Regions from separate parts of the Homo sapiens genome. Here regions 1 and 3 are each linked to region 2. The links come from fine-mapping of genetic effects on gene expression. A gene starts in region 2. Each other region holds a variant in brackets. All regions are shown on one strand. Distances are from middle to middle. Region 1 holds the start of TAS2R40 (taste 2 receptor member 40). Region 2 holds the start of GSTK1 (glutathione S-transferase kappa 1). Region 3 overlaps CASP2 (caspase 2).

Region 1 (10,272 bases), 40 kb after region 2:
AGGGTACATTCCTGACTCCACAGTACATAGATGACTACTCAGGAATTTTTCACATTATAATTTAATCCAGTATTCTTTTCTAGCCTGTGTACTCTTGGAGGGTAAAATTTTTGTTGAGTTGATCTTTATTTACTAAAAATGCATTAAGAAATACATTTTTGTTGAATGAATGAATGCACTTATCTTCATATCGTGGTTTACAATTTATTATAGACATATTTTATTTGAGTCTCATAGCAACCATGTGTAGCGGATGTTATGATTATTTCTGCTTTCCAGATGGGGAGACTGAGGCTCAGAAAGGTTTAGTGACTTTCCCAAGATCACACAGAATGGAGACTGAAGTCTAGATCTTTGACACCGAATGTAGATTCTTTCTATACACCACATTTCCCATCATTATTCAATAAACCAGCCTGTTGCTTAGTCATCTAAAAGAACACAAAAATACAAACATTGCCCTGCTGGATCAAATTCACAAGGAGAAAGCACTCAGAAAGCCTAGTGTTCAACCTCAACAGAGATGGTTTGTAGAGGCATGACTATTTCAAACTCATTGTTATCAAGTGAGTAGCTTCAGGGCAATAGCTTTCAAAGCCTTAAGGAGAAACAAAATTTGGGCTCCGTGTCTATCCTTAGCAGGTGGGAGACAGGGGACTAGAACATTAGCTTTCTGTTTATTTTTTTATTTTATTTTTTTACAAAGAGCTAGTGGACTCTATTTTAAAGATTGCACAGGGACAGAGAAAAGCTGGAGAAATTGAAAGTGGCAAAAATATTGGGGAAGTTGCCACGTTCAAAACATGGCAAAAATTCATAAAAAAGGATGAGTTCATGTCCTTTGCAGGGACATGGATGAAGCTGGAAACCATCATTCTCAGCAAACTAACACAGGAACGGAAAACCAAACACCGCATGTTCTCACTCATAAGTGGAAGTTGAACAGTGAGAACACATGGACACAGGGAGGAGAACATCACACACTGGGGCCTGTTGCGGGGTGGGGGGCTGGTGGAGGGATAGCATAAGGAGAAATACCTAATGTAGACGATGTGTTGATGGGTGCAGCAAACCACCATGGCACATGTATACCCATGTAACAAACCTGCACATTCTGCACATGTATTCCAGAACTTAAGGTATAATAAAAAAAAAAAAAGAAAGAAAAAATAACATGGCAAAAGTTGCCACAATAAGTATCCCTGGTTTTGCAATGAAGTGTGACTGGGTCCTGGGGAATGCTGTGCCTTCAGGGGTAGGAGAACATGCCTGAGTGAAGGGTCTGCAACTGCAGCCTGGGGGCAAATCTGACCCACTGATTCTTTTTGTTTTGTATGGCCCACGAGATCAACTAAGCAAAAATTTCACCCTCCAAGAGTGCACAGCTGGGAAAGAATGGACATGGCTGTGCTCCAACAAAATGTCACATCATGAAATATTAATTTTTTAACCATTTAAAAATGCAAGAGGCATTTATTAAAAATGCATTTTTAATGGTTGAAAACATTAAAAGAAGAATAATATTTCATGACACGTGAAAATTATATGATATTCAAATGTCAGTGTCCATAAACAAAATTTTGCTGGAGCACACCCATGTCCATTTATTTATTTTTTGAATCACCATGGTGGCTTTTGTGCTGCAACAGAAGAGTTGAATTCTTCTGGAAGGGACTGCATGTGGCCCACAAATCCTAAAATATTTACTCTCTGGTCCTTTACAGAAAAAGTTTGCTGACCCCTAACCTAGTGCCTGTTAGGTTCAAATCTACACTCAGATAACTGTCGGGCAGCTAAACTGTGGAATACTAGATGTCTTTCATTTCTGACATTGTCAGGAAGTGAACAGGAATCCAATTCTTAAGGCCACCCTACACTTTTCACCTGCCACTTGGATGACTGAACTACTGGATCCATGGCCATGTTCTGCCACCAAGCCTGTGGGACTATAAAGGCTAAGCCTTCTGTGTGCATCTGGCCCAGTCTGGTCTGTCCTTTTCATATCTGGCCTGCTTTAAATATCCTCATTCTAGATGCCTCTCAGTGTCACTCCACTTCCCTTTGGAATACTAACAGCTAACATCTATTGATGGCTTACTCTGGGTCAGATGCTGTGTGCTAAACACTTTACCCCATTCTTCTCTTAGGATGAGATAACCCTAGGAGGCTGGTATTTCCCATTATTGTTCCCATTTTACAGATGTGGACACTGAGGTTCAGAGAGATGCAATAACATGCCCATTTGCACACCAGTAAGTGGCAGAGCCAGGACCCAAACCCAGTCTCACGACTCTGGGAACTGCACGGGCGGGGGTGTGGAAGTTGAGGGGATGCAGGTTTTTCTGTTAATGCTCCACCCTGCCTTGGATCCCCTCCTGCTACTGCTGCCATACTAAACCTAGGGGGTGGCTGGTACTTTTCTTTCTTGGGCTATCTTCAAAACCACTTTTCTCTTATTTTCTTCTTGATGCAACTGAAAGAGGGTAGAACATTCATAAGACACTTTGCTAAAAAAAATAAGAAAAACCAAATGAGAGACAAACCAGGAAAATTTTTTACAAATCTGTATTCTTCCTACTGACGTTGTTTGATGGGCTAGCGCCACAGACACAGAGCACCTTTGCAATACCACACTGGGAGGGAAGAGTCCAACCCAGAAATGCTCCTCTTCAAAGCTCTTGGAAAACTTTGTTTTGCTGCTTACAGGGTAATCCCCACAGGCCTAGGCAGAATTGTCAGTTAAGAGCTTCTCCCAACTGAGAGTGGCCAAGATTAACTCAGCACTCAACACCTCCACATCTTCCCCTTTAGGTTCCCACTGCCCCAGCCCTTCACACCACCCATTTTCTGCTGTCTGCTCCCATTTTCCGCCCAGGCCTGCCCTTCCTGGGCCATGTCACAGGCTCCAAAATGCTTCCATCTTCCTCCTGTCAACAGAAACTTGTAGCAGTGTAACATGTTACCTCTTCCCAGCATACACTTGATTTGAGCATTTCCCTGAAAGTTTTGCCTCTCCTATTTTAGGCAACGCTTCCCCCATTTAGAAAAGGGTACAGAGAGTTCCCCCAGCCTTCAAACATTACAGACTGGCTTTTTAGCCGTTCTGTCCTCCTCTTTCTCCCCCAAACAAATCTTTCTGAGTACATAAGAAATTTCCTCCTCTTACCTCTCTTCTAAAGATTTTTCTTGGCTGGGTGCGGTGGCTTATGCCTGTAATCCCAGCACTTTGGGAGGCTGAGGCGGGCAGATCACAAGGTCAGGAGATCAAGACCATCTTGGCCAACATGGTGAAACCCCATCTCTACTAAAAATAAAAAAATTAGCTGGGTGTGGTGGCACATGCCTGTAATCCCAGCTACTCAGGAGGCTGAGGCAGGAGAATCGCTTAAACCAGGGAGTCGGAGGTTGCAGTGAGCCAAGATGGCACCACTGCACTCCAGCCTGGGCGACAGAGCGAGACTCCGTCTCAAAAAAAAAAAAAAAAGAAAACTATATATATATTCCTTGTCTCCAGAGGAGAGGGAGAAAACGTAAGACAGATGGGAAGGCTTCCTCTCTCGGTGTCTTTTTTTTCTTTCCTTCCATGATCTTTCCTAATGCACAAGTTGCCCTGTCTCCAACAAGACATAATTAGTTAGCCCTTGGTTTCTGCTCCCCTCCCCCAGCACAAGACATTTTAGACTGGTTGGACTTA[T/C]AGTTTCTTTTCTTTTTATTACATAGATGTTTCTTCCCTGCTGCCCCAAGTAAAGAATGCCTGAGAGAATAACAGATTTCCTGTAGAATAAAAGCAAAGAAAAGCCAGAACCACAGTGGAATTTTAGCAGACACCGAAGTAGTTGGAAGGGGAAGATGATACTGGATTGTGGGACAATCTGGTGCCCATAAAGTCATAGCCCTTAGACTGGCCATGGCTGCCAGTCTAGCCTTTATTTGCAAGGACTCGACCAGGTATGAGGAAAGAAGCCAGATACCCTGCCTCTGGGCTGGGCCTGCCAGACTGGAATCCATTGCTAACCAAAGTCCCCTTACCTGCTCCACATGCTAGATGAATATTCAGAGTGACTTTGTGGGTAAAGGAATCCTTCACTCTATCACTTTCAACATCCCGCAGGGCTGTGGGGCGAGGGAGATGATGTAGAGTTTGCAAGGTGAAAACCTGTAATAATATTGAGACCACAGCAAGCCGGGCTTTGCATTTGGTTACAGACTTTTGTCCAGCAGAGTCGATTATTGTCTTCATTTAGGACTTCTGATTGCTGTCTAAAGCCAGACAACTTGAAGACTAGGTATTCTGGGTCTTTCTGAGTGCTTACTTGGGTTTTACATACAGAAGAAAGAGAATTGGAGAGAATTTTATCTCGTTGAAGGCAGGCCAACATGTGCATCGATAAGGATGTTATCATCCTTGGAGCTTTTGTTAGCTATGTGCTGCCTTAGGCTCTTGCTAGCAATGAGATGATATTTCTTCATAGTAAGTATGGAGTTATCCACTTTGTGGTCTTGACATGGTTCATGTTAATATAATGGCAACTTTAAATCAATTTTCTCTCTAACTCTGTAATGCATCAGAGAACCCTTAGTGGGTACATGACCCTTTTATCAATATATATAACTTGGAAGAAAATGTATATTTCTCTATTCTAGGGACTGGAATAAAACTTCAATATCTAATTTGTCTTACTATAACAAATACCGCCTGAAATAGTCATATAAATAACTATAGCTTAAGAAAACTATCAAAAATGTGTGTTTTATTAATATTTTACTTTTCAGGTAAATAAGTCCCAAGCTGTCTGAGCTATAAAGGAATCTGTGTGTGTGTGTGTGTGTGTGTGTGTGTGTATGCCATGTGTCTGTGTGTATGCCGTGTGTGTGTGTGGTTTTTGCAGTTTATGGATGTAAGGAACTCTCTCTGAAATGTGTGCTTGAGAGCGCTGGAGCTCAGAACTAGACTTTGCTACTGACCTCATATTTTCATTTGGGGGCTACCTAAGCTTGGTATGATCCACAGCATTCTTTTTTCATTTTCCTCAATAATCATGATTTAAAACTTACCTAATAAAAGACAACTTCAGATTCCTAACGTTCAAGCTCTAAGATATCTGGGGAGAGGGTGTCCAATGTTTTGTGAACAGCTCTTTGAGACAATGCTGCTGGAACCATCCTGAACAATGACAATGGAGAATAATGTTTTTCCTCTTCTCCAGCAGCCTGCCCCAAGTAACCCGCTCTTGCCCCACTATTTACTTCAAGGTAACCCAGAACTGGTAAAACCAGAGGCACAGGTGCCGCTAGCATTGCCACAGAGTCAGGAGCTGAGCAAAACAGACGCTTACTTACTCTGGCCTCTTCCTTTTCTCTTTCTGCTTCCTGCCCACTTCACTCTTTTCCCTGCATTCTTTCTTTCCTCTCTGCTCACTTTGTCCCCTCCCATTTGGAGAAATAAAGCATTGAACTGACCCTTCACATATCCATCTGCCGTTCTATAACTCATCTTTATCTGCAAACATCCTCTCTAGACTATTGGTTTTTACCCATCCCCTCCCTTTTGGCATTATCTTCTGGAACTCCTGGGATCAGGATGTCACCCTATCACTCCACTAATGGCACACATGGCATCCTTTTAGTCAAATCCAGAGCCTTTTTCTTCACCCTTTACTTTCCTCGGAACTCTGCAGCACTTGATAATTTCCAGCAGCCTTTCTTTCCTGAATCTTCTTTTTCTGTAGCCACTCTGGTTTCCCTTCTACCCCGTGGACTGAGTGCTGTGCTCTGCTTCACCAGCCCTAACTGTGTGTTAGTTGGGTGTCTTAAGTAGGATGATCATGTAATTCTTCATCCAGACCATGATATTCTTGAGAATTAAAGGATGCTCAATTGACAACAGACAATAAACAGAGATTGTCCCTGGCAAACCGATATGTCTGGCCACCCTCTCCTTAAGGCTCAGGAGGAGAAGAAAGTGGAGAGATCTCAGGGCAGGATATGAATGAACATAGTTCAAGGAGCTTTCAAAGTCCATCTTCAGGTTTCTTAGTTACTTCTGTTTAGAATCTCAAGTTAAAAATTCAGCTTCATATTTATAAAAGGATCACGTTATCTGAGAAGTGTCAGAGCAGGTTTGGGAGAGAAGAGACGGGTGAGGAGAGAGTTCTACCTGAGGCAAAGGCAGAAGTGGTTGGACCAGGTCCCGCAGAACTCCGTGAGTTCCAGTCACAGAGTCTGCCCTTTTAGGTAAAGAGGAACTTGGTGCTGAAACCGCTTCCAGGCTCTTCTCAGCCCAGGGTTGCCCAAGATCAGTTGTACTGAGTGGCCGGCAGGGTAGGCAGCCATGATGATCTTGCACAAAATATTCCAGGAACTGTAAGTGTCAAAGATGTTGGACGTGGAAAGAAATAGAGCAATTGCATTGAAAATGTAGAGGATGAGAAAGTAGCTGGTGGCTTTGATGGCCCCTATGTGAGCCTTCATGCTGGGGTCCCTGGACCCTGTGGCATTGCTTCCCATGTGTAGGGTGTGTCTCTTGAGAGAGAGGATCAGCAGGGTGGCTGCCAGGATGAACATGATCAGAGGAACGAAGATCCCCATGTTATAGAAAAATACCAGGTTGACCATATTGGTCTCAGAGAAGTACTTCTTCTCCGTGGAGTTGGAGGAGGGGATAGGAATGGAGCTATTCACATACACATTGAAGACATCTCTCGAGAGAGGAAAGCTGAAGCTTAAGGAAACCAACACTGACAGCCTGAGAAGCCAAGGCATCAGCACTATGATTTTCCTCTTCATCAGGAAGAACAAAGGATGATTGAAGTTTGCAATTCTAAGACAATAGAAGACTTTGAGCCAGGCAGCAAACCAGAGATTGGAATGGTTCAGAAAGACAGTGATGACTTTGAAGAGGATATACACTGAGTTTTGGTTATAAACAATTCGGAATAGCAGACTGAAAATGTTCTCCAGCATCATCCAAATCTGTAGCAAGAGCCTGGAAAAGCTCAGCATCAACATAATGCGGTCACCAGTGGGGAGTGTTTTGCCCCTGGCCCACTCAGCCCCATAGATGGCCGTGATGAAGCCACTCCCAAGGATGCCAGTGATGCACTCTATTCCGGAGACCACCAAAGTGAAGGTGACCTTGAACTTGGATATGTCTTTATCTGTGGCATCTGTGTTCACCGTTGCCATTCTCTTTGATCCTGACTTTCAGGTTTCTGCGCCAAGAATGGGTAACTGCTCTGCAATCTTCTGACCCTTGCTCAATGTTATAATTTCTGCCGCCCTCATTAATGGTTATTTCCAATTTTTCTCCATTTGTTTATCACATGACTACAAGTTAGAGGCTTCACATGCAAATAATGAGAGGATCTGGTTACTGGGTCTGTCTCAATTTTTCATAAAGATACATTTGTCTTGGGCTTTCAGAAGCTCACTGGAAATAATTTGAGACATGTTTCTAGCTCAACACCTTCTTACCTTATTTACTTTAAGTCCACATTTACCTGATAAGCAATGAATACAAGGCCTTTTTACTTGTCTCACAAGATCTCTGTTACCTGCTAAATTATTTGTAAAAGCTCATACAGCTTTTAAAATCTGTTTTCCCCACTTCTTTTCTTGTCTCTCTTATTTTGGGAGAGAGTTTTATTTTGATAGTTACCATGTTTGTGAATAAGAAATTCCCATAAGCTCATATATGAACATCTTTTACTTAGAATTGAGTTTCTTCCAAAAAGGCCTGCTATTATAATGTCCTCGAATAGTATATAGAAAAGCCAAAATTGGATGCTATTCGAGTTGGAGAGAAGGAAGTCTCCATAGTCCCAGTTTTTATTGTTTGTGTATGTGTCATCAATTTCAGCTTACTGAGATCCCACATGACTATTTGAGCTCAGAATCAGGTAGAATGAGCCTGGGGAGAATTCAGTGTTCTGGACATGGTGTTGAAGTTTGGAAATGTGATAAGGTACTATGACTTGAAATTTAATTTCCTACTTTTTAACCCTGGCTGTGAACCAGAATGAACTCTGGCACTTTACAAGAATATGTAGATGCCCAGGACTCGTCCAAATCTAGGAAATCAGAACTGGACTAGGGCTCAGGCATGCTATCTTTTAAAAAAGCCGAAAGGTCTTGTTGCTCATAGTCAGGATTGAGATCCAAAATCTTAGCTGGAAACCAATGAGCCTTGGGTCAGATTTGGCCTGTAGTCATTTTACCTTGCATTGGTTAATGCTGTACAGCATTAATCCACCAGTGTGTAACTTTTCTTTTTGAGGGGTTCTATTGGCAAACATTTAAACTTAGGAGATTACTTATATGCATGCACAAAAAATCTATCTTCTCTTGAAAAATTAGAAGATTTGGCAGTATTGGGTCTTCATAGTGAACTGGCTGAAGCTGAGTAATGGCTGCCCATTTTAAACAAGGTATATACTTTTCAGTTTGTTGACAATACTAATTCCTAGTGTCTTCTTGACACAGAAGCTGAGTGCCAGTTATCATTTTCCAGTGTGCTTACCCTGTTATTTTTATTTGATTATTTTTCTTTTTGAGACTGGGTCTCACTCTATCACCCAGGCTGGAGTGCAGTGGTGTAATCATGGCTCACTGCAGCCTTGACCTCCATAGCTCAGGTGATCCCCACACTTCAGCCACCTGAGTAGCTGGGACTACAGATGCATGCCAACACACCTGGCTAAGTTTTGTATTTTTTGTAGAGACAGAGTTTCGCCATGTTGGCTAGGCTGATCTTGAATTCTTGGGCTCAAGCAATCCTCCCATCTCAGCCTCCGAAAATACTGGGACTATAGGTGTGAGCTACCATCCTTCACACCTTGGTCCATTATATTTTGGGCCTTGGTCCATTATATTTTTTAATAATATAAATTGATGAATGATAAAAATGGGTTTCCCCACCCCAAATTAATTTTATTTAAAATAAGGAAGTTGGCTGGGCGCAGTGGCTCATGCCCGCAATCCTAGCACTTTGGGAGGCTGAGGAGGAGGATTGCTTGAGCTCAGGGGTTTGAGGTCAGGCTGGGCAACATAGTGAAACCCCTTCTCTACCAAAAATACAAAAAATTATCTGGGCATGGTGGCATGCACCTGTGGTCTCAACTACTCGAGAGGCTGAGGTGGGAGGATCCTTGAGCCTGGGAGGCGGAGGTCTCAGTGAGCTGAGATGGAGCTACTGCACTCCAGCCTGGGTGACAGAGCCAGACCGTGTCTCAAAAATAAATAAATTAATTAAATAAGGAAGTAGAGATTTATTATTTGTATAGAAATAAGCACCAGGCAAAGCAATATATTTCAAAATTAAGAAAGCATTATTTAGGGAAATTAAAACTTATGTCAACACGGAGATTTGTACAAAAATGCTCACAGCAGCTTTATTCATAATAGTCAGAACTGGAAACGAGATTTGTTGGCAGGTTCTGCATCTCCTGTAAGAGACTCATTAACTTTGGTTAGTTCTCTTAATTGAGGACAGTAGTATTTGTCAGCAGCTTTCACGTATTCCAAAGCATCAAACTCACTTTTTGGTTTATTTTGTCCCAACATATGCAAGTTTGTAATAAATGATATCTCCCCAAATTTCTGGCACACAATCGTTGACTTCCATTGTTCTGGTACTGTTTTCTATTGGTCTTCATTCATGTTTTTCTCTGATTTTAAGAGGTGGGAACAGAAGGAGATCTTGGGCAGGGTCTGCCTGCAGCCCCAGAGGCTCAGGCAAGAGGAGCAGGGAGGGGATCAGCCATTGGGGTGTGGGACTATTGCTGAGGCTCAATGCAAGCTGGCAGTCTGGGCTGACAACTCCAAGGCACTCACAGTGCCACATTTATAGCTATGTGGGGCCAATTCATTTTTATTCCATATTTTATCATTTGGAGAGCTAGAATGGAGGCATCATCTCTACTTTAGAGAAGTTCTTTTTTTATTTTTATTTTTGGAGACAGGGTCTTGCTCTGTCACCCAGGCTGCAGTGCAGTGGCACGATCTCAGCTCACTGAAACTTCCCCCTCCCAGGTTCAAGCGATTCTCATGTCTCAGCCTCCCAAGTAGCTGGGATTACAGGTGTGTGCCACCATGCCTGGCTTATTTTTGTATTTTTAGTAGAGACGGGGTTTCACCGTGTTGGTCAGGCTGGCCTTGAACTCCTGGCCTCATGTGATCCACCTGTCTTGCCCTCCCGTAGTGCTGGGATTACAGGCGTGAGCTACTGCACCCGGCCTGCTTTAGAGAAGTTCTCATGGGGGTCTTCAAGGAACA
Region 2 (10,272 bases):
TAAATCCCAAACTTGATTAGTTGCAAAGTCCATCTGGCTTGGTTTTCTGTTGCTGATAGAGAGACCAGGGGAGTTTCTGTGTGAGAGAACGGGGGACTATTCTCACTTCTTCCACCGCACAAGCTGCTCAAGGTGGGCTGCATGGCTGGTCTGGCTGGAAATACTGAAACAGCTCTCCTTCACCTACCCCTAGAGTAGGCAGGATGTGACCCCAGGAATGAGAATATACCAGGGCAGATACAGACACAGAAATGTTTTGCCTGATGGCATTAGGTTTATTTTGTGGGAAAGCAGAATTGGGGCTCTCTGAAAGGCACTTGTGAGGCATAGAAGTAAAGGTTGCCACATGGCTAATGGTGGACGTCTTCCTGGCATCCTTGGGGGTAGGGGAAAGACAGACAGCTCCCAGGGCCACAGAAAATACCTCTATCAGATAGAGAAATCCGAGTCCCAGTGCCTTATGGTGGAGCCAAGGGTTAAGCAGATGGCCTGCTTTTTTTATACGAAGAGTTTGCTTCCTCCGGGCAATCTTAAAGTCTGGCATTCACGGCTGGAGGTATAGGGCCCATCCACTTCTCTCCTGGATGAAGAAAACAACAGACTCTGCACACTGTTCTCAGGTGTTCTGGCAGCAGGAGTTGGTCCCACAAGGTCCCAGGGGTTTTCTAGAAAGACTTTTGCTTGGCTTCAAGGTATAGAAGGCTTCCTTTTCTTTTATGGGGTTGAAGACAGCCCCTGCCCACTCAACCTTGAACAGCACTGACTGCATAACGCTTTGTTACTGGAAGTGCCAAGAATATTTTTTTGCTCTGAGCCCCTCCTTCTGGTCAACTGATATAGTGGGTGTGGAGCTGGGGTCAAAGGCAGCTCAGGGTTGAATCTTTTTATTTTTTGAGACGGAGTCTTGCTTTGTCACCCAGGCTGGAGTGCAGTGGCGCGATCTCGGCTCACTGCAACCTCCGCCTCCCAGGTTCAAGTGATTCTCCTGCCTCAGCCTCCCACTGAGGCAGCTGTAGTCCCAGCTAATTTTTATATTTTTAGTAGAGACGGGGTTTCACCATGTTGGCCAGGATGGTCTTAATCTCCTGAACTCGTGCTCTGCTCGCCTCAGCCTACCAAAGTGCTGGGATTACAGGCGTGAGCCACTGCACCTGGCTCAGGGTTGATTCTTTAACTTACTTACCCAGCAGGTGCGCCAGCAGCTCCATCCGGTCAGAGCCAAATAACATGTGGGTTTGGCCATCCACATGGGCCACGGTGATGGGCAGCCCAAAGGCCTGGAGAAAGCAGTTACAATGCAAGGAGGAAGGCAAAGGAGCAGGTATTAGGCAGGGGTTGAAACCTTTGAGTCAGTACTTTTCTGAGTTCACAGAAGCAAAGAGGTCTAAGAGGCTCTGTGGCCCCAGGTGCCTTCCTGTTTCTAAGATGCTCTCTTTTCTCTCACTGTGCATCTCCTTCCCTTCCTTTCCCTGAGCCCAAGGAAAAGAAGGAAGAAGATGAGGGTTGTTTAAGAGCACTGAGGAGAACACTTGGAAAGGGGGCTTTTGTACAGGAGCATAAGGACTCAAACTTAGAGATTCTCAAGTCTCCATCTTCAGGATGGGTGCTGGGAACACACATAAAGAGCTGCTCACTCCGTATCTGCAGGCTGCCTCAGTGGTCTCCTTGAGCTGGTTCTTCACCTTTGGCGTTGCGATCTTTTCCAGAAGTCCCTGGGCTTGTTCTGCAGACATACCAGCCTTCTCTGCAGCCTAAGGGAATATAGTAGGGAATACAACTGTGTCTGCATGATATTGGATGGGGATCTCAGAGGAAAACTCTGGTCTTTTTATTTTCTGCCCCCAAGTTTTGCTGGCAATGCCCTTACCCACCCACAAGTGGAGATCTGTCCTTGCCAAGAGGAACTATTTCCTTTATCCCAAATCTTGAGATGGGTGGAAAAGGAGAAAAGGTAGATGGCACAGAGTCAATCACAGAAATTAACACCAGCGGACATCTTAGAGAGCAGCTAGATAGACCTCTTTATTTCACAAATGAAGAGCCTGAATCCAGAGGTGATACATTACTTGCTCAGAGTTACAGAGCATGTTGGTAGCAGAGCCAACACTAGAATCCAGGTCTCTAGAATTCAAGTCCAGGGCTCTTTCCTTCCTACCTCTCACAGTTCCTAAGTATCTCATGCTTTTTTTGAATCAAGAGCTAGGCTGTAATTCCAGTGGAACTTCCTGAGAACTTTGTAACAAGGCACATGGCTGCAGCCACCTACCTGGCTTCAAGACAAAGATAAAGGCTTCAGTTTGTGGTTTGTTGGTATAGTTTGGGATAGATGGTTCTTAACTTTGGCTGCCCATCTGAAACTCCTGAGGAGCTTTAAAAAATCTCCACGTGAGGTCATCCCTTAGAACTAGATCCAAGCACTGTGGCTCATGCCTGTAATTCTAGCACTTTGGGAGACTGAGGCAGGAGATTGCTTCAGCCCAGGAGTTCGAGACCAGCCTGGGCAGCAAAGTGAAACCCCCATCTCTACAAAAAATTTTTAAAAAATTAGGCATGGTGGCACATGCTTGAAGTCCCAGCTACTCGTAAGGCTGAGATGCGAGATCACTTGAGCCCAAGAGGTTGAGTCTGCAGTGAGCCATGATCATGCCACTGCACCCCAGCCTGGGTGACAAAGCAAGACACTGTCTCAAAAAAAAAAAAAAAAAAAAAAAAAAGAAAGAAAGAAAAAAAAGAACAAGAACAATTACATCACAATTCCAGGGGAAAGGGTTAGCGCCAAGGTGCTCCAGGTGATTTTAATTCACAGCCAAGATTGACAACCACTGCAACTTGACTTCCTAGATCAGAAGTGGGACCCAGGAATTCATGTAGCCTGTCCTAATGAGACACTATCTTTGACTTGGTTAAATTAGAGAATTATGTCCTACACAAAATGTTTAACCACAGAAAAATGGTTAAGCAAAACAAAAATAAGTCCACTCAGTGGAACCTCTATAGAAACAAAGAACTATACTTTCAGAGTTAAGAATTCCATGGAGGCTGGGCACAGTGGCTCATTCCTGTAAACACAGCACTTTGGGAGGTGGAGGCAGACAGATCTCTTGAGCACAGGAGTTTGAGACCAGCCTGGGCAACACAGTGAAACCCCTTCTCTACAAAAAATAAAAAAGTTAGCCAGACATGGTAGTGTGTGCCTGTAGTCCCAGCTACTCAGGAGACTGAGGTGGGAAGATTGCTTGAGTCCAGGAGGCAAAGGGTACAGTGGGTCGAGGTCACACCACTGCACTCCAGCCTGGGCGACAGAGCCAGACCGTGTCTCAAAAAAAAAAAAAAAAAAAAAAAAAGCATGGAAAATGATTAAATATGAAGTAAAAAAGCAAGCTAAAAATTACACATGTACTTTGCAGGAGTATAGACTGTAGAAGATATATTTGCCATTCCTTATACGTTTAACTTTTGTGTGATTTGCCACTTTATATATTAAATTTGAATAGGTCTCAACTATTTTTTTTTGTAAACCAGAGGAATAATACTGTTTTGAATTTCCTAATTTAATCCTGAAGACAAACTTACTTTTATACCCCCATCCATGGCTCACTGGTCAATGTTTTGAGCTATTTCCATTTGTTCTCACTCAGGCTCCTATATAACCCTGGCATTAGTTATCTCTTTTCGTCTTTTTAAAGCCTCTTGGAACAAGTCTCCTGCCTTCCACTCTGGATGTGTTGGTGAGGTTTGTGTTGGAGTTTGTGGAGACTTGTGAATACTATATCCCTCCCCATCCAGGGGTTCCAACACTGAGCATCTTTCTCTCACTGACATCTTTCAGCAAATAAATTCTTCCCATATATTGTCCCTTTTGCACTTCCCCTTTCAACCTTGAGATATCCTTTTGAGGATCCTTAGTTCCAACTTTTCAGTAGTTTGTGCCCTGAATCACAGACATCCTTTCTTCCCCAGTAATTATAACCTTTTCCATGCAATAAGAGACCTATTGTCTTCTTTACCCCCAAACGCCAACTGTTCTCAGATTCTCTATGAGTGCAGTTGGGGTGGAGCCAGGACACTCACCGCCAGGATGCTCTGCGGCTCGGTGATGTCTTCATTCTGGGAAGAAGAGAAGACAGCAGGAAGGCGGTGCGGGGAGAGGGGTGTGACTGGGAGGACAGTAGATCCCCCGGGCGGGGGCAGGATCATGACCCTGAAAACGTGCCTGGGGAAGGTCAGAAAGTCATCCAAGGTCCTCCCAGAGGATTCCCAGAGCCCCACACTCACCCTTGACCAGACGCGCATCCACAGCTCCCGGGACGCTTTCTCCAGCATCTCTGGATGCTCCAAGTTCACGGCGGTGAGGAAACGCATGGCAGACAAACTTCCTGTGGGGCAGAGGCACCCAGAGGCAGGGCTCCTCTTGCTGCTTTCCTGGTGGAGGACTAGCTCTTCCTTGCTTCTGACATCCCCCAGAGCTCCTCCGCCCTCAGCCTCTCACCCAAGGTTCCCATGACCTATTTGCCTGCTCTTCTTCCCTTTCATGCCCGGCAACCTTCAGCTCGCTCAAGGCTGATCCTGAGGTTTCCCAAGGCAGGCTTCACTTGCTTTAGTCTCCCGCAGCCCCTCCATCCTATCAATCCCTCAATCTCCGACTTCTGTGTTTTTCACTGGATACCCTGTCTACATCCCACTCTCTTCACCTTTTTCAAGCATCACAGACAAGAAATCCTTGGGGAAGTGGATGGGAATCTGGAGATGGTGTCTCAGGAGCTTTAAGTCATTTGCCATGTATAGTCCTTTGCGGGGAAGCAGACCTGGAGGCTTGTTTCCTGCCAGGAGAAGGTTGGGCACGCTAAGTGAGAAAAGACCTAAGGGTCCCAGGTTTGGGGACCTCGACGTGGGTTTTGGGCAGAGGGCAGCTTCCTTTTTTTTCTCTTGTTGTTTCGCTCTTGTTGCCCAGGCTGGAGTGCAATGGTGCGATCTCAGCTCACCGCAACCTCCGCCTCCTGGGTTCAAGCGATTCTCCCGCCTCAGCCTCCCGAGTAGCTGTGGTATACAGGCATGCACTACCACGCCCGGCTAATTTTGTATTTTTAGTAGAGACGGGGCAGAGGGCAGCTTTCTGGCTGCCAGTGCCAATATAAGGACCCGCTGGGGTCGGCTCTCTTGGGCCACTGAGATCACCCCTGCCCCGACCCTCCCTTCCTACCACTGTCTTTCATGATCCCTGTTATGAGGCTGGGCCGCAACTGCAGGTTGATGTTCCAGATATTCTGATACCGGCACAGGATCTGCGGGCAGAGGTCAAGAACGATTGCCAGTGTGCAAGATGGAAAAGTGAAAGAGCCGAGGGAAAGGGAAGGGAGGCGCTAAGTGCAGAGCAGGGGTTATGCGGACACCCTACATTGTTTGGTTTGAAATTGGCAAAACTCTCCTCACTACTAGAAATCTATTCCAGGATCTTCGCTCCTGTGGCCAGTTTTCCCCAAAACTGCCATCGTTGGGCTAAGAGGTGGCCGTGTTCTGCATTTCTCCCTGAATGTTTGGAGCCGCCCCTCTTTCCACCACCGTGGGAAACTGCAGTCGGGATATAAAGGCTCGGGTTGGAGCCAGCGACTCTATTCCGTTTAAAAGCACAAAGTGACCTTCAGCCCCGGAGCTCTCCCTGCTTGCCTTAACCCCTTGGGCGGCGCCAGGAGTTACACGAGACCTCTGTCCCGGAGCCCTGCGCTCACTCTTCCCTCCGCCCTCACTCCCCAGACACTGCCGAGGCGACCCCTCCCAGCGTCACCTCGAAGCCCAGCCAGGAGTAGGGGGACAGCACGTCATAGAAGAGCTCCACGGTGCGCGGCAGGGGCCCCATGCTGCAGGCTCCGGAAGAGCAGTGGCAGCAGGAGCTCCTTTTCCCGGAACCCGGCAGAGGCTGCCCAGCTTCTGGGCCTGCCTGGGACCGCCCACCGCCTTAGCGCGCAGCCTCAGAGAGAAACTGCCCTGGTAGAGGTCCACCTCCGGCGCAGCGGGGCAGGGCCAGCCTACGGCCCCCAGCCAGGGGCGGGGTGGGTAGGGACCCCTTGGGGAGCGCGCAGGTGTGGACAAGGGGCGCTGCAATCGCCTTTGCAAAAATTTTAACAGTGAGAAAATTACGAAGGTGAAACAGATCTGAACTCACCAACTCCATCGTGCCTTTAACCTCCAAACTGCCCTTGGTCATTCCTGAGCATGGGACGAGCTAATATAGGGAGAAATTTAGTTTATAGTTTAAATGATAATAGCCCTTCCCCAAACTAAACCAGTTTTATAAAACTAATAAAAGTCCACAAGTTTAGGATTATGAGAGGGGCCTGAATTCTGCTAAGATGTAGGCATTAACAATTACCAGACATTGTTCCAGAGGTCACAAGCTCTGCAACTTCCCCAATTATTCCTGTAAATAACCACTTTTGTAGAACCTAAGACTGGCCTTTGAAGATACCTTCTCAGACTTTTCCATTTCTAATGACAGGATGACTCCACCTGGACCAGTGACTCCTCTGTGGCCCGCATCCAAATGCAACTCGGTGCACTGAGGACGGTTTTCCACACCCCTGTGATTGCATCCCCAACCAATTAGCAGCACCCATTCTCTAGCCCCTTGCCCATCAAACTATCATTAAAAAACTCTAGCCGGCGGGCATGGTGGCTCACGCCTGTAATCCCAGCACTTTGGGAGGCTGAGGTGGGTGGATCACTTGAGGTCAGGAGTTCAAGACCACTCTGGCCCACATGGTGAAACCCTGTCTCTACTAAAAATGCAAAAATTAGCCGGGCATGGTGGCATGTGCCTGTAATCCCAGTTACTCGGGGGGCTGAGTCAGGAGAATTGCTTGAATCCGGGAGGCAGAGGTTGCAGTGAGCCGAGATCATGCCACTGCACTCCAGCCTGGGTGACATAGCAAGACTCCCTCTCAAAAGAAAAACAAAAACAAAAACAAAAAAACCCACAAAGTCCCCTAGCCTCTGCCTCCGAATTTTGGGAGGCTAATTTGAGTAATAATAAAACTCTGGTCTCCTGTTTAGCTGGCTCTATGTGTATTAAACTCTTTCTCTATTGCAATTCCCTTGTCTTGATAAATTAGCCCCATCTGGGTAATGGGCAAGATGAACCCATTGGGCTGGTGTCAGGGTGACTGTCCTGCTCTGCAGTGGAGTCTTGTGGGAAGGGGGTAGTTTGAGATGCCTGCAGTGCCTTTCACTTAGCTGTGCCCCTTGGGTGAGCCACTTGACCTCTCTGAACCTATTTCCTCATCCTGCATACACATGGGGAATATCTAATGATAACACCTGCCTTATGACGAGTTGTGAGGAATGAGGTACTCCAATAACTGCTAGCTCTTATTATTGTTGCTTGGCAGTTGCATGAATCTCCTAAACTGGGGCAGAATAAGAAGTTCTCAGAGTACACATTTTCTTGTGTTACCTTTGTCAGAGATTTGCACAATGTCTGGGACACATTTGACCATCGATACATATATTTTGAGTGAGTGAAAAAAAAGAGGGACTGGTAGAAGATGGAGAGGCCTCACTATAGATAATTTTGGTGATAATGGAAACGATTGGCCCTATTCGTTTTCACAAATATGTGAGTCATATTGTCTTATATTGGGATTACATTTACTGCAAAGAAACAGAATTTTAAAATAATTCCATTTAACTTTGTTAAAATTATTTTTAACATTACTAATTTAATAAATTGGAAAACATATAAAGATTCCACTTTTCATTTGTATCAATAAGGAAAACAACTCCAGGCTATCAGAATACAGAGATACGAGGTAAACCCCTACATGGAGAAGAGCATGCAAAATGGAATGAAAAATGATGTTATCATTACCTACTTGCAGAGTAAACTAATTGTTCAACAACCACTGAAACTAAACTTTTTTTTTTTTTGAGATGGAGTCTTGTTCTGTTGCCCAGGCTGGAGTGCAGTAGCACAATTGCAGCTCACTGCAACCTCTGCCTCCTGGGTTCAAGCAATTCTCTCTGCCTCAGCCTCCCAAGTAGCTGGGATTACAGGTGCCCACCACCACGCCCAGCTAATTTTTTGTGTGTTTTTGGTAGAGATGGGCTTTCACTATGTTGGCCAGCCTGGTCTTGAACTCCTGACCTCAGGTGATCCACCCATTTTGGCCTTCCAAAGTGCTGGGATTACAAATGTGAGCCACCACAGCCCACCTTGTTTTTTTTGAGACATGATCTCACTCTCGCTCAGACTGAAGTGCAGTGGTTCAATTTTGGCTCACTGCAACCTCTGCCCCCCAAGCTCAAGCAATTCTCCCACCTTGGCCTCCTGAGTAGCAGGGACTACAGGTGTATGTCACCACACCCAGCTAATTTTTGTTTTTTGTCGAGGTGGGGTTTCACCATGCTTCCCAGTCTGGTCTTGAATTCCTGGGCTCAAGTGATCCTCCCACCTCGGCCTCCCAAACTGCTGGGATTACAGGCATGAGCCACCATGCCCAGCTACATTTTTGTTTTTCTCCAGTAATCATAATTTTAAAGTGTCCAAGAGCTAATTCAGCGTGGTAATTTAAGGTTTCATTTCAAAGGTAGATCAATCACTTATTTTAAAAAGCTTTTTATATTTGGAAATGTTTTAGATTTATAGAAGACTTGTAAAGATAGTACAAGGTTTCTGAATACCCCTCATCCAGCTTTACCTAATGTGAAAATCTTACATAAGTATGATAATGATAAAAACCAATACATTAACATTGGTACATTACTTTTTTTTTTTTTTTTGAGCTGGAGTCTCACTCTGTTACCCAGGCCGGAGTGCAGTGGCGCAATCTTGGCTCACTGCGACCTCCGGCTCCCAGGTTCAAGCGATTCTTCTGCCTCAGTCTCCCAAGTAGCTGGGACTACAGGCGTGTGCCACCACGCTCAGCTAATTTTTTGTATTTTTTAGTAGAGACGGGGTTTCACCATATTGGACAGGCTGGTTTCCAACTCCTGATCTCGTGATCCCCCTGCCTCAGCCTCCCAAAGTGCTGGCATGAGCCACTGTGCCCAGCCTGGTACGTTACTATTAACTGAACTGCAGGTTTTGCTCAGATTTCACCAGTTTTTTCATTAGTGTTCTTTTTCTGTTCCAGGATCCAGTCCAGCATACATACAGAATTTTGTTGTCATGTCTCTTTATTCTTCCCATATCTATGAGAGTTTCTTGGCCTTTTCTAGTGTTTCATGACTTTGACACTTGTGAAGAGTATTGATCAGCTATTTTGTGGCATGTCCCTTCATTTGGGTTTGTCTGATATTTCCTCAGAGTAAGACTAAGGTTGTGGACTTTTGGGAAGATTACCACAGAGGTAAGGTGCCCTTCTTGAATCATGTCATGAGGTACAGGGATATCAACATGACTCATCACTGGTGGTGTTTACCTTGGTCACCTGGTTAAGGCGGAGCAACTGGAAAATTTCTGCACTGTAAAGTCACCATTTTTCCCTATCCAAACCCTAGTTTTTGGAAGGGAGTCAGTAAGTGCAGCCCATCCTGGGAGTGAGGGTTGAGTAGATTAAGTCCATCCACTGGAGGGAAGAATATTAAAGAAGTTGTGGATATACGTTAACACTACCATGGTAACTAATAAATATTTGGGGGAGATACTTTGAGGCTATGCAAATATCCAGTTGCTCCCTAAACTGTCACCCATCAGTTTTATTATTCATCAGTGGATCTTGCCTGCAGCAGTTGTTACTGTGGTGTTCTAATGGTGATTCTCTATTTCCTTAGTTTTTTTCATTTATTAATTGGAATTCTTTTGACAGGAGAGTTGTCCCTTCTTTCTATTTATTTATTTATTCAGTCAGTTATTTATATCAGTATGGACTCATGTATATTTACTTTAAGAATCACAGAATAATAAAACATTGATCTGAGTCCTTACAGTCTATCTCCACATACTATTACTGTTGTTATTATTATTATTTTTAGGTTGGGCCCTGTTGTGGATAAAATGGAGTAGAGACAACAAAAAGAAAAATATATTCACTTCTATGGGCTATCATCTTCCTATTGCTGAGAGGGGTATTTAGTGTTAAAAGAAAAACCTCAGACAATTTAAATTTAATGGAGTTTATTTGAGTAAAGAATGATTCTTGAATCAGGCAGTACTCAGAACCAGAAGAGGTTCCGAGAGCTCTGCAACTGTAAGCAATGAGTATTTATAAGCAGAACAGGAAGGTAAAGTACATAAATAGTTTGATTTGTTGCAGCTAAGTGTTTTGCTTGATTTAGACA
Region 3 (10,272 bases), 34 kb before region 2:
AAACAAGGTAATAAATAACAAATACGGTTACCATATGTATGCTATATAAAAATCACAACCTCGAACTATGTATCAAAAAATAATAAAACTAAGTATGATCAGTTGTTTCCAAGGTGGTTTTGATATCTTCGAAGCACTATGTTTATTAATTTCATAAGATAAATTATAGCAAGCATCCAAGATTTAAGAAAAAAAATTTTTAATTTATTTTTTAAAATAACTTTTTAAATCTTTTTTTTTCTTTTTTTAATAGAGATGGGGTCTTGCTACGTTGACCAGGCTTGTCTTGAACTCCTGGCTTCAAGTGATCCTTCTGCCTCGGCCTCCCAAAGTGTTGGGATTATAGGCATGAGTCACTGCACCTGGCCTTATGAAAATTTTAAGAGGAAAAACTTAAAGTGGGGAGAACTTGACTGTTTTCTCCCAGAAAATTTAAAAAGATCATCCTTATTCAATTTTAGCAGTAATTTCTCAACATACCCTGAGCAGATCCTTGCTCTTGATACAAGCCTTATGTATCCCAAGACAGACTCTTATTTTTGATGATGTTGTTTTATTTTGGGTGTGGGCAGGGGTGCTGTCAGTAGGCAAGACAGATGGGGAGGACTCTCAGGTCAACACATCAAAAGTAAGAGTATGCTCTTTTACAGTACTTCCTGATCCATGCAATGTCGAGGGAGCCTAGGAAAGAAGGGAAGCTTCAAGAATTGGGGGAAAAGGACCAAAGCACAGGTTTAATAAAAATGTGTCAAGCAACTGCCATGTGTTGGGCACTGTCTTACTTTAAGGCCTAGGGATAGAGTGAAGAGAAAATTCCTGCCGTCATGGAGCTTACACTCCAGTTTAGAAGCTGACTGGGGCAGGGGGGTGGAGCTTTTTCTAGACATTAATTATATTAACCAAATACAGCAGGAAGACAGGTGAACTCAAATTTTCAATGGAACAATTGGCTACTGGTCATTCCTTGAAGGATTTAATTTCAGAAAAGTTAGAGAGACAGAGCAAAAGATCCAGATTACTCCAGAAAAGAGCAATTACTCCTTATCCAGATCCAATAGTGTATTAAATCCCTGGATATAGGATGAGAAAATCACAATTTAACGTCGTTTTGTTAGTAAAGACGCCTAAAGGAAACAGGCCAAGCTAAAGAGAAAGGAGAATTCCTCTCTCACCTTTATATCACAGATCCATCAATCAATAAATGTCACTGGTTCTTTTGTCACAATATCCTCATATTTGTTTTTTACATAATACCTACAGTTTTTCAGGCAGATTAATTTTCATCCATTCATTGAACATTTATAAGTGCTACCATGCATCAGGCAGTGCCCTGGGCCTGGGGATAGAGCAGGGAATGAAAAGTAAAGTTGCTGACCCATAACCTCTTTCCTTAGTGCAGCCCCCTCCATGGCAACCTTGCTGGAAAAACAATTCATCACATTATTTCTTACTTAAGCTCCCAACTGTTCCTTACTTTTACCTGCTGATGTCCAAAACCTCAGTTATGACTAAAGGTTTGTAAGGAGGTGAACCCACTTCATTGTGACCAGCCACATCTCACATACTCACACAGATGCTATTTTAAAATCAGATCCGAGCATCTGTTTGGGAGGAGGGGAGACACAACATGCCCTCTGCCTCTCAGTGTACTTATCATATTGTATTGTTTCTTTCCTACGACAGACTCTAGATACTACTCTATAACTATGTAAATCAAATTACTCCAGGTACAAATTAAGCCTTATCTTATCTAAAAAATCTCTTTAAACTACCCTCACTTAAAATGATCTACTCTTACTGCATACTCCTTCCTAAGTACAGTTTGTACCTTGCTAATTTCACCTTTGCTTACATGAGGCCTGTGAACTAGTCTTAAGCTACTTCATGTATATTTACTTTATTTTCCTGAGTAACTGGTCTGCTCCTTAGAGAGGCCACATTTCCTTCTGCTTTTGCGGTAGTAACTGCCGTAGTCTGAGTCATGTTGCAGGGCCTCAGCAGACTATATTCTGCGGTAATACTAGATCAGGATGACAATAATATTAGCTATTTACATTTGGCCACATGAGAGATTAAAAAAGTAATTATTTGAATGTTTGGACAAAGTGACCTTTAAAGCAAACTATAAGCCCTTTACGGCACTGATCGTGTTTTAAGAGTTACAGCTGGCATATTTTGTGGATGTGCTGTGAGCCAGGTACTGAGCTATGTAAGCCCTTAAATGCATAATCTCATTTAACCATCACAAGCACCTTATGAAGTAGGTACAAGGACTATTTTCATTTTATATTGAGGAAACTGAGATGGAGGGATGCCATTTAACTTCTTTAACTTCACGTTACTAGTAAATGGTGAAGTCAGAATTTGACTCCAAAGTTAGGGCTCTTAATTACTATTATTTTCCTCCAGGATGAGAAGCACACCTATGTGTCTTTTAATCCTCGTCCTGCAGTCCTGGCTCTTAAAGGAGTAAAACAGACTGCATGAGAGAAAGAGGGGCAGCAGCAGCTCACGGAAAAGGAAGAGTCAAAGGCCAACACGGATTCTGTTCTGCTATCCTGCATGACCCAAGAATGGTAAGAAGAAAGAAGAAAGGAGGCAAGCATGGAAGTGTAGGTAAACAGGGAAGTATATGGAACAAGTGAAAAGAACAAAGAGTGAAAGAAAGGAGATAAAATAAGAAGGACAGGAAAAAGACAGATCAAAAATCCGTAACTGGAATGAGTAACCAAAAAAAGGGCACCAGAGTTAATGAAGCACAGAAAAGAGTAAGAGTTCTCAGAAAGGAAGGCAAAGACACGGGATAAGAGACCTGAAAACAGGATATGGTGGTGCACGGAGAGCTGACCAGCCTGAGAGCCATGGGCTGCCCAAGTCCCAGCACACCCCATGCATTGGGAGACACTTACAGAGCAAGAGAGGCGGTGGCAGCAGTGAACAGAAGGAGGTGCCCAAGGGATCCAATAGCACCTGAGAGGAGCAAACAGGAAAGTGAGAGCTGGTGGGAGGCTGCCCAGGAGCCACCACCCAGGTGCTGGTCTGCTAGGGCACTCACCTCCACGGCAGGCCTGGATGAAGAACATTTTTGGTTTGTTCTGTAGGCTTGGGCAGTTGGCGTTGTCAAAGAGCTGAAAAACCTCTTGGAGCTGCCAGAAAGAAAGAAGGAAGAAGAGAGGTTAAGCATTCAGCGGGGCCTCCTAAGTCCTACACATGCAACAGTAGCCATCACTTGACAGACAGCAGGCAGGAGGTAAAGCAGCCTGGTTTCAACAGTTGGCTTCCACCAGGGTATCCGCACCTGGAGCAGTTTCCCATCCACACCATAGATGGCGCCCTCCACACCATGCGAGAGGAGTGCCACGATGCAGGAGTCCGTGACTCGGTGTGCAGGTAACTGTGCAAAATTCTGCAGTTTCTCTTGCATTTCCTAAAAGAAAGGAATGTTTAGTGTTGTGCACTAAGGTCAGCACCAACATAAGCATCAAAGTTTGGTTTCTTTTTGAAACCCTAAGCTATTAGAAGATAAAACGCTTTATGTATATTCCTGTGGTCAATGATAAAAGAAGAGACCTTTTGAGAGACTAAAGAAAGCTATGGACTCACCAGAAAAATGCATATGAGTTCAGACACAATATTCTGAATACAGATTCAGACTCACTGAGATAGGCAAACAGCTCCTGGATTAAAGCAAGTTACTAAAGAAGCTAATCATGAGCTGGTCAACTCTGATTAATTCCCTGTTCATAACCAGATCCTTCATTAGAGCAACTGCCCTTGTATATAAATGGCACAAGGGTGACTCAAAGTGTAGCTATGAATAAGTAACATGCACATTCAGCTACACGAAAATAAACTGTTCTGTGACAGCATCATGATAGTAGAGAATAGCAATACTTGTATGTTGTCTTCTAAGATTCTAAGTGTCCAAGAGATAATGATGATGACTGTATAAAATGCTTTGTTTCAGAAAGAGCACGCTATGAAGGAGGATTCTGTACAGGGCAGTAATTACATACACAGGTCCTGGGTTCAGATTAATCTAGGTTTGAACCTTGGCTTCATGAGTTGGAACAGCTTACTCAGACCCTTGAGACCTCACTTTTCACTTTATAAAAAAAAATTATGAGGATATTTTCTCTAAGTTTGTGAAGATAAAAATGAGATATTATGACAAAGGACTTGGCCTGGACAACCTAGCAAGACTCCATCTTTAAAAAAAAAAATTAGCCAGGCATGGTGGTGCATGCTTATAGTCCCAGCTACTCTAAAGGCTACGGTGGAGGGATCACTGGAGCCTAGGAAGTTGAGGCTGCAGTGAGCTGTGACTGCACCACTGCACTGTAGCCTGGGTGACAGAGAGAGACCCTGTCTCAAAAAAAAAACCAAAAACCGATCACTGTGTCTGGGACACATTGCAAAAAAT[G/C]TGCCATTACAATGTGCATGTCGAATAAAGAGTATTTTTCTCAAAGAAATCTATTACTGGTCAATGTTGTAGTCCAACTTAAGAACTGTTTTCCTGTTTATCTTTTTTTTTTTTAGACAGGATCTTGCTATATTGCCCAGGCTTGAGTGCAGTGACTATTTACAGGTGTAAGATCACTACTGATCAGCACAGGAGTTTTCACCTGCTCCATTTCTGACCTGGGCTGGTACACCCCTCCTTAGGCAACCTGGTGGTCCGCCACTCCCAGGAGGTTACCATATTGATGATGAACTTAGTTTGGACACCTGATCAGCATAGCACACTACAGCCTAGAACTCCTGGGCTCAAGGAATCTTCTTGCCTCAGCCTCTAGAGTAGCTGGGACCATAGGCATGTGCCACCATGCCTGGAGAATCTTGTTTATCTTGCACTAAGTTGCGATACATGAAGAGCACTACCTTAAGCATTTGGTCCATCCATCAGAAGGTTATACTGTGTACCTAAAGAGCATAATAATTGGGCACACATGTTTAAACCTATGCCTCCCTCTATAATTCACGATGTCTGGGTCTTCTGAGATGGGCAGAAAGAAAACAAGTTCATTTTATTATAAACTTGAATAAAATGTAATGAAAATAAGTAAGTTATCTGGGTGGAAGAGTTAAAACACACATATATTTAATCACACACACTGCCAAAATAAAAAGCACACTTCTATAATATAACATATTGCAGTAGTTCTCAGAGTGGCCCCTAAAGCAGCAACAGCAGCATCACCCAGGAACTTGGAAGAAACGTGAAATCTTGGGCTCCAGCAAAATGTGTTTTAACAAGCCCTCCAGGACACTGTGATATGTTAAAGTTTGAGAGCTACTAATTGATCTGTTCGGAATACTTCTGTTTGTAGATAATTGAGATGCAATTACATAAAATATTTGAAAGTCTGCAATATAACTAGAAATAAAGAGACTGGTGTTGTTGAAAAGTATCTGTATTTTCTAAGTAGAAGCAAACCATAATAATAGAAATCTTAAGGTAATGACAGATAATCAAAAAATTCTTTCAAGAATATATAATTTCAAGAGAATACATAACTGTGAATGTTCCTCTGGAGCTGATGCTAATAGAATTTAACATTTAATAGTTAAAGAAGTTAATTTTGCTCAAAGAAGAAAACAAAGGCCGGGCGCGGTGGCTCACGCCTGTAATCCCAGCACTTCGGGAGGCCGAGGCGGGTGGATCACCTGAGGTCAGGAGTTTGAGACCAGCCTGACCAATGTGATGAAACCCTGTCTCTACTAAAAATACAAAAATTAGCCGGGCGTGGTGGCATGCGCCTGTAATCCCAGCTACTCAGGAGGCTGAGACAGGAGAATTGCTTGAACCTGGGAGGCAGAGGTTGCAATGAGCCCAGATCGCGCCATTGCACTCTAGCCTGGGCAACAAAAGTGAAACTCCATCTCAAAATAAAAAAAAAGAAAACAAAAATTATATACCTGGGCACCGAATCACGAGCATTTTGAATTTAGTGAGATTAGGTCAGTAAATAGAAAACAATGTCCAAAAAAAGAATACACGCACTTTGTAACCAAACTTAGTAAGACTAAACCATTCAATAAATGGGGATTAGACATTTGGAGGAATTTTTCTACAAGTAGCATAGCTTAAAATAGGATCTGCAGATTTGTTTTTGATAAAATTACAGTACTTCTATAAATAGCAGGGTTCTTAACTCCTAAGTGTATTTTTGGCTAGGGGTTGGGGGACATGTGAAGAGAGTAACTTGTGAACCCTCTGAAATTATATGCTAAATTATATGGGCAGCTGCATTTTCCAGGGATAACCCATAGCTTGTCCTTACATTTTCAAAGCAGTTTGTGACCCAAATGCAAGCTAAAAAAACAATACCACATGGTAAAAGGAAATTTCCACTTTGAAGAGTACGTTTCCTAACATAGGGTAAATCATAATTCTAGAACTAGTAACCTCATGAAGTAGATGCAATAAAAACTTAATAACAAAGAGAAAAGTGAAAACATCTGGGCAGTGAGAATACCCATGTTCACTGCAGCACTATCAGGGGAAGAGGAGTCTCTAAGACTAATTATACTATTTCCTGTTTTTAAATGGAATTCCTCTCTTAAGTAAGAAAGATTTGATAGGGAAAGAAAAAAGGATCTTTTTTTTTTTTTTGGTTCTGTTTCTTTGCTTGCCAAATAGCTATATGATAAACGAGTTGACTCTCTAGGGAGATCCCACCAGGAAGAGAGCATTCTGTGCAGATGCCCAGTGTACCAAATTATGACACCCATTGCAACTACCTGGTTTATAACACACACATTTCTTGTCCACATACTGTTCTCCCTGCCTAGGGTGGCTTCACCACTCCTCTCTGCTTCAGTAACTTCTATCCTTCAAGGCCAGCTTAAGTTCTGCCTCCTCCACTTATCCTTCTGATCATATCTACCTAGGCGCTTCTTCTTCTTAGCTATGACAGAAGATTTTTTCTCTAATCTTGTTTGGTCGTTAGGAATATAAGAGGACACACTTCCTTTTATGCTGATGTCAAAACTCCCTCATCTGATCTTTAAAATCTGTGGCAGCTCACATAGTCCCCCATTATAAGGTGCTTGAAGTTCAACTCTACTGCAATTCCAGTTACAGAGCAATTCAACCAAAGAATTAGAATCCAATAGGTCACTGAATATGCATCAGGCTTACCATAAATGGAAATGCTATTTATGAAGTGAGCTCATAAACTCACCAAATCTGACAGTCTCTGAGAAAACAGCAGTATATATAGTTGACTTAGTGACTCAGTATTTTATCTTTAACTATTAGACATGTAAGATCCTTTATCAGCTGCATACAACTTGAAAAACCATGACATAATAGATTTCTAGTAAAAGACATGGCTAGACCAAAACCTCTAAGAAAACACACACACTGCACATTTTGTTAAGTGACCTTCTGTAGGAATTATGGCTGGTACCCTGCCCTTTGCCCCTTTATGCCCAGCAGACTTCTCAGGAAAGCATATAAACTACCTGAATACTTGATGACTGAAGCAGCTGTTGCTGCCATGGCTTTGAAGCAAGGGTGGATTTAACTACATTGCATATGCTACAAGGGGGAAGCTGGCAAAAATAGCATGTAAAGGACAACACCCAGGTACCTGTGGATGAAACTGGCCTTGCCAAAAATATAGTAAATACATAATTACTCTCACAGAAGGAGGGCAGCTAAGAAAGAGAAATGAAGACTACAGACAATGCTGAATGGAAAACAAAGATCCTCTATCCCAACAGATCAAAGTGAATCTCCTAGCAATTTTAATTTCACCACTGACAACCTCAAAGCAAGTTGAAGAAAGTTCTACTATTCTGGAATCAAAATAAAGAGTGAATATGAATCTACAAATAGGCCATTATTGATTGCAAAATAGAAACCCTAAAGGTCACAAAGTCAGTTGTGCAGTACAGTAACTGAGGTTAATGACGAACAGCCCATAATGAAAATGTTTACAATTTCTAGAAATCTGGTCCACAAACAATCTACCCTATGACTTGTGATTACACAAATGTTAAGAATACTTTCCCAGCCAGGTGCCGTAGCTCATGCCTATAATCCCAGCACTTTGGGAGGCCGAGGGGGACGGATCACCTGAGGTCAGGAGTTTGAGACCAGCCTGGCCAACATGGCAAAACCCCGTCTCTACTAAAAATACAACAATAAGCCAGGTATGGTTGCATGCGCCTGCAGTTCCAGCTACTCAGGAAGCTGAGGCAGGAGAATCGCTTGAACCTGGTAGGCAGAGGTTGCAGTGAGCCGAGATCGTGCCATTGCACTCCAGCCTGGGTGACAGAGCTAAACTCTGTCTTTAAAAAAAAAAAAAAAAGTGAGACACCAACTGTGGACTATTATTACTTTATGAAACCACAACCTGAGATGTCAACACTAAAATGGCTGGCCGGCCCTAATTCTTTCTTACTAGAATGCAAGGTGAGAGGCAGAACAGAGTGAGTAAAAATGTAAGTAGAATAAACCAACTTTTAAGACATATCCCAGCAGGCACAGGAACAAACGATGTCTCTGGTCCCAAAGTGTTGTTCAGTCCTCTAATTTACATGTCAATTTTTCCCACCTCAGGTACCTGTGCAGTCTGGTCACATAGAACATGGACGTCATAGCCCAAAAGCTTGAAGAGGGTGACTAGAGTACTGTGGTCCACATCCCCTCCAGAGCGAAATTCCAGTTCTTTCTCTCCAGTGAAGTGCACATTGCTCAACACCAGTGCTAGGCCACGAGGCCGAGACTGCAACCTATATGCCTGTGGAGGAGAGGCCAGTTAGACCATGAGCGTCTTGATAACAGATGATTCCTCGGCTAGATTAGACATTTCAAGAAAACAAAGACATCGTATTTTTCTTCTTAACCTCCAGCAGGTAAAAATAGACAAATGCTCACAGAAGGCATTTAACCAGTAACAACTTTCTGACTAATAAGGCAGAAAGGAAATGTACATGCAAACTAAGTTCAGGTTCCCAGGAAGGGTGTCTAATTTCCCAACTCTCTTCCTCTTGTCATTATGCAAAAACTCACCAGCTGGAAGTGTGTTTGATAAAATTCAGGAGTGCAAGGCTTCACCTGAAGGCAGACAGGACCATCTTTATTGTCTAGGGAGTGTTCCACAGTATCTGTGGTATAGACAGAAAACCAAAAAACTAGTATATAACTTAACCATCAATCTTAATATGTCATTGTAACTTCAGACATCTCTTGCAACTGGGTTGTGATAAATATTGGTCTCACTCACTACCCAAACCTGTAAGCTTCATGAGGGCAGAGACTCTTAGTTTTAGCTCACTAAAGGATTCTCTGCACATAGCCTGCATGAAGCATATGCTCAACTGGCTGAATGACCGAATGGGCTAGCTGATAAAAGCCTCGTTCCAATCACTAGGATGCTCCATCAGCAGGCTGGTGGCCCCAAATGTAGTCTTTTCTTATTCAGCTTTTTAGAGGCCAATTGAGCATGAACTTCCTGCCCATACATGCTACTCAAAGGCCCAATTATCACAAAAACTGTTATCTGGGGTGGAAGGGAAATGGACCAACTATTAATAACACCTTGCCTGGGCCGGGCGCAGTGACTCATGCCTGTAATCCCAACACTTTGGGAGGCCGAGGCAGGCAGATCACGAGGTCAGGAGATGGTGAAACCCCATCTCTTACTAAAAACACAAAAAATTAGCTGGGTATGGTGGCACGCACCTGTAATCCTAGCTACTCAGGAGGCTGAGGCAGGAGAATCACTTGAACCCAGGAGGCAGAGTTTGCAGTGAGCCGAGACTGCACCATTGCACTACAGCCTGGACGACAGAGCAAGACTCCATCACAAGAAAAAAAAAAAACAAAAAACCACAAACTCCTGCATAAACTGTCCTACTAGCCCTTAACAAATTTACTGACAACTGTTCCCAATATAAACTATGTCTCAGCTGGGCATGGTGGCTTACGCCTATAATCCCAGCACTTTGGGAGGCCAAGGCGGAAGGATCATTTGAGGCCAGAAGTTTGACACCAGCCTGGGTAACAAAGTGAGACTCCTTCTCTACAAAAAATTTAAAAATGAGCTAGGTGTGGTGGCATGCACCTGTAATCCCAGGTACTTGGGAGGCTGAGGCAGGAGGAGCCCTTCAACCCAGGAGTTCAACGCTGCAGTGAGCTATGGTGGTGTCACTGCATTCCAGCCTGGGTGACAGAACAAGACCCTATTTCTGAAAAAAAACACAACAAAAAAAAAAAAAAACAAAAAAAAGGGCTCATGTTAGGACAAAGCCAGATAC

What was found. PIP is the estimated chance that this variant, and not a neighbour inherited with it, causes the effect. A credible set is the group of variants that fine-mapping cannot tell apart.
Region 1: its variant is the best candidate, but not a certain one, in a credible set for the expression of GSTK1 in whole blood (TOPMed, PIP 0.87).
Region 3: its variant is the best candidate, but not a certain one, in a credible set for the expression of GSTK1 in blood mononuclear cells (TOPMed, PIP 0.64).

What each region holds. Positions count from the first base shown.
Region 1 is chr7:143,218,992-143,229,263 of GRCh38, reverse strand. It overlaps TAS2R40 (taste 2 receptor member 40), which reads right to left and starts at 7,227. Exons shown (of 1, transcript NM_176882.2): 1 at 6,185-7,227. The coding sequence starts at 7,185. The coding sequence ends at 6,214. The variant T/C (reference allele first, on the strand shown) is at 3,695.
Region 2 is chr7:143,259,096-143,269,367 of GRCh38, reverse strand. GSTK1 (glutathione S-transferase kappa 1) reads right to left here and starts at 5,927. Exons shown (of 8, transcript NM_015917.3): 1 at 5,783-5,927; 2 at 5,201-5,282; 3 at 4,692-4,820; 4 at 4,276-4,376; 5 at 4,072-4,107; 6 at 1,635-1,751; 7 at 1,184-1,277; 8 at 253-580. The coding sequence starts at 5,854. The coding sequence ends at 531. The region is part of intron 2 of TMEM139-AS1 (TMEM139 antisense RNA 1); the gene reads left to right. It overlaps LOC105375546 (a long non-coding RNA gene), which reads right to left. Exons shown (of 3, transcript XR_007060569.1): 3 at 6,161-6,220. RefSeq lists enhancers at 5,680-5,899, 5,718-6,012 and a silencer at 6,040-6,109.
Region 3 is chr7:143,293,078-143,303,349 of GRCh38, reverse strand. CASP2 (caspase 2) reads right to left here. Exons shown (of 11, transcript NM_032982.4): 5 at 9,026-9,120; 6 at 8,577-8,753; 7 at 3,299-3,427; 8 at 3,056-3,146. It also overlaps the pseudogene RN7SL481P. Among named protein-coding and RNA genes, the nearest start is that of CASP2, 9.9 kb to the right of the region's middle. The variant G/C (reference allele first, on the strand shown) is at 4,424.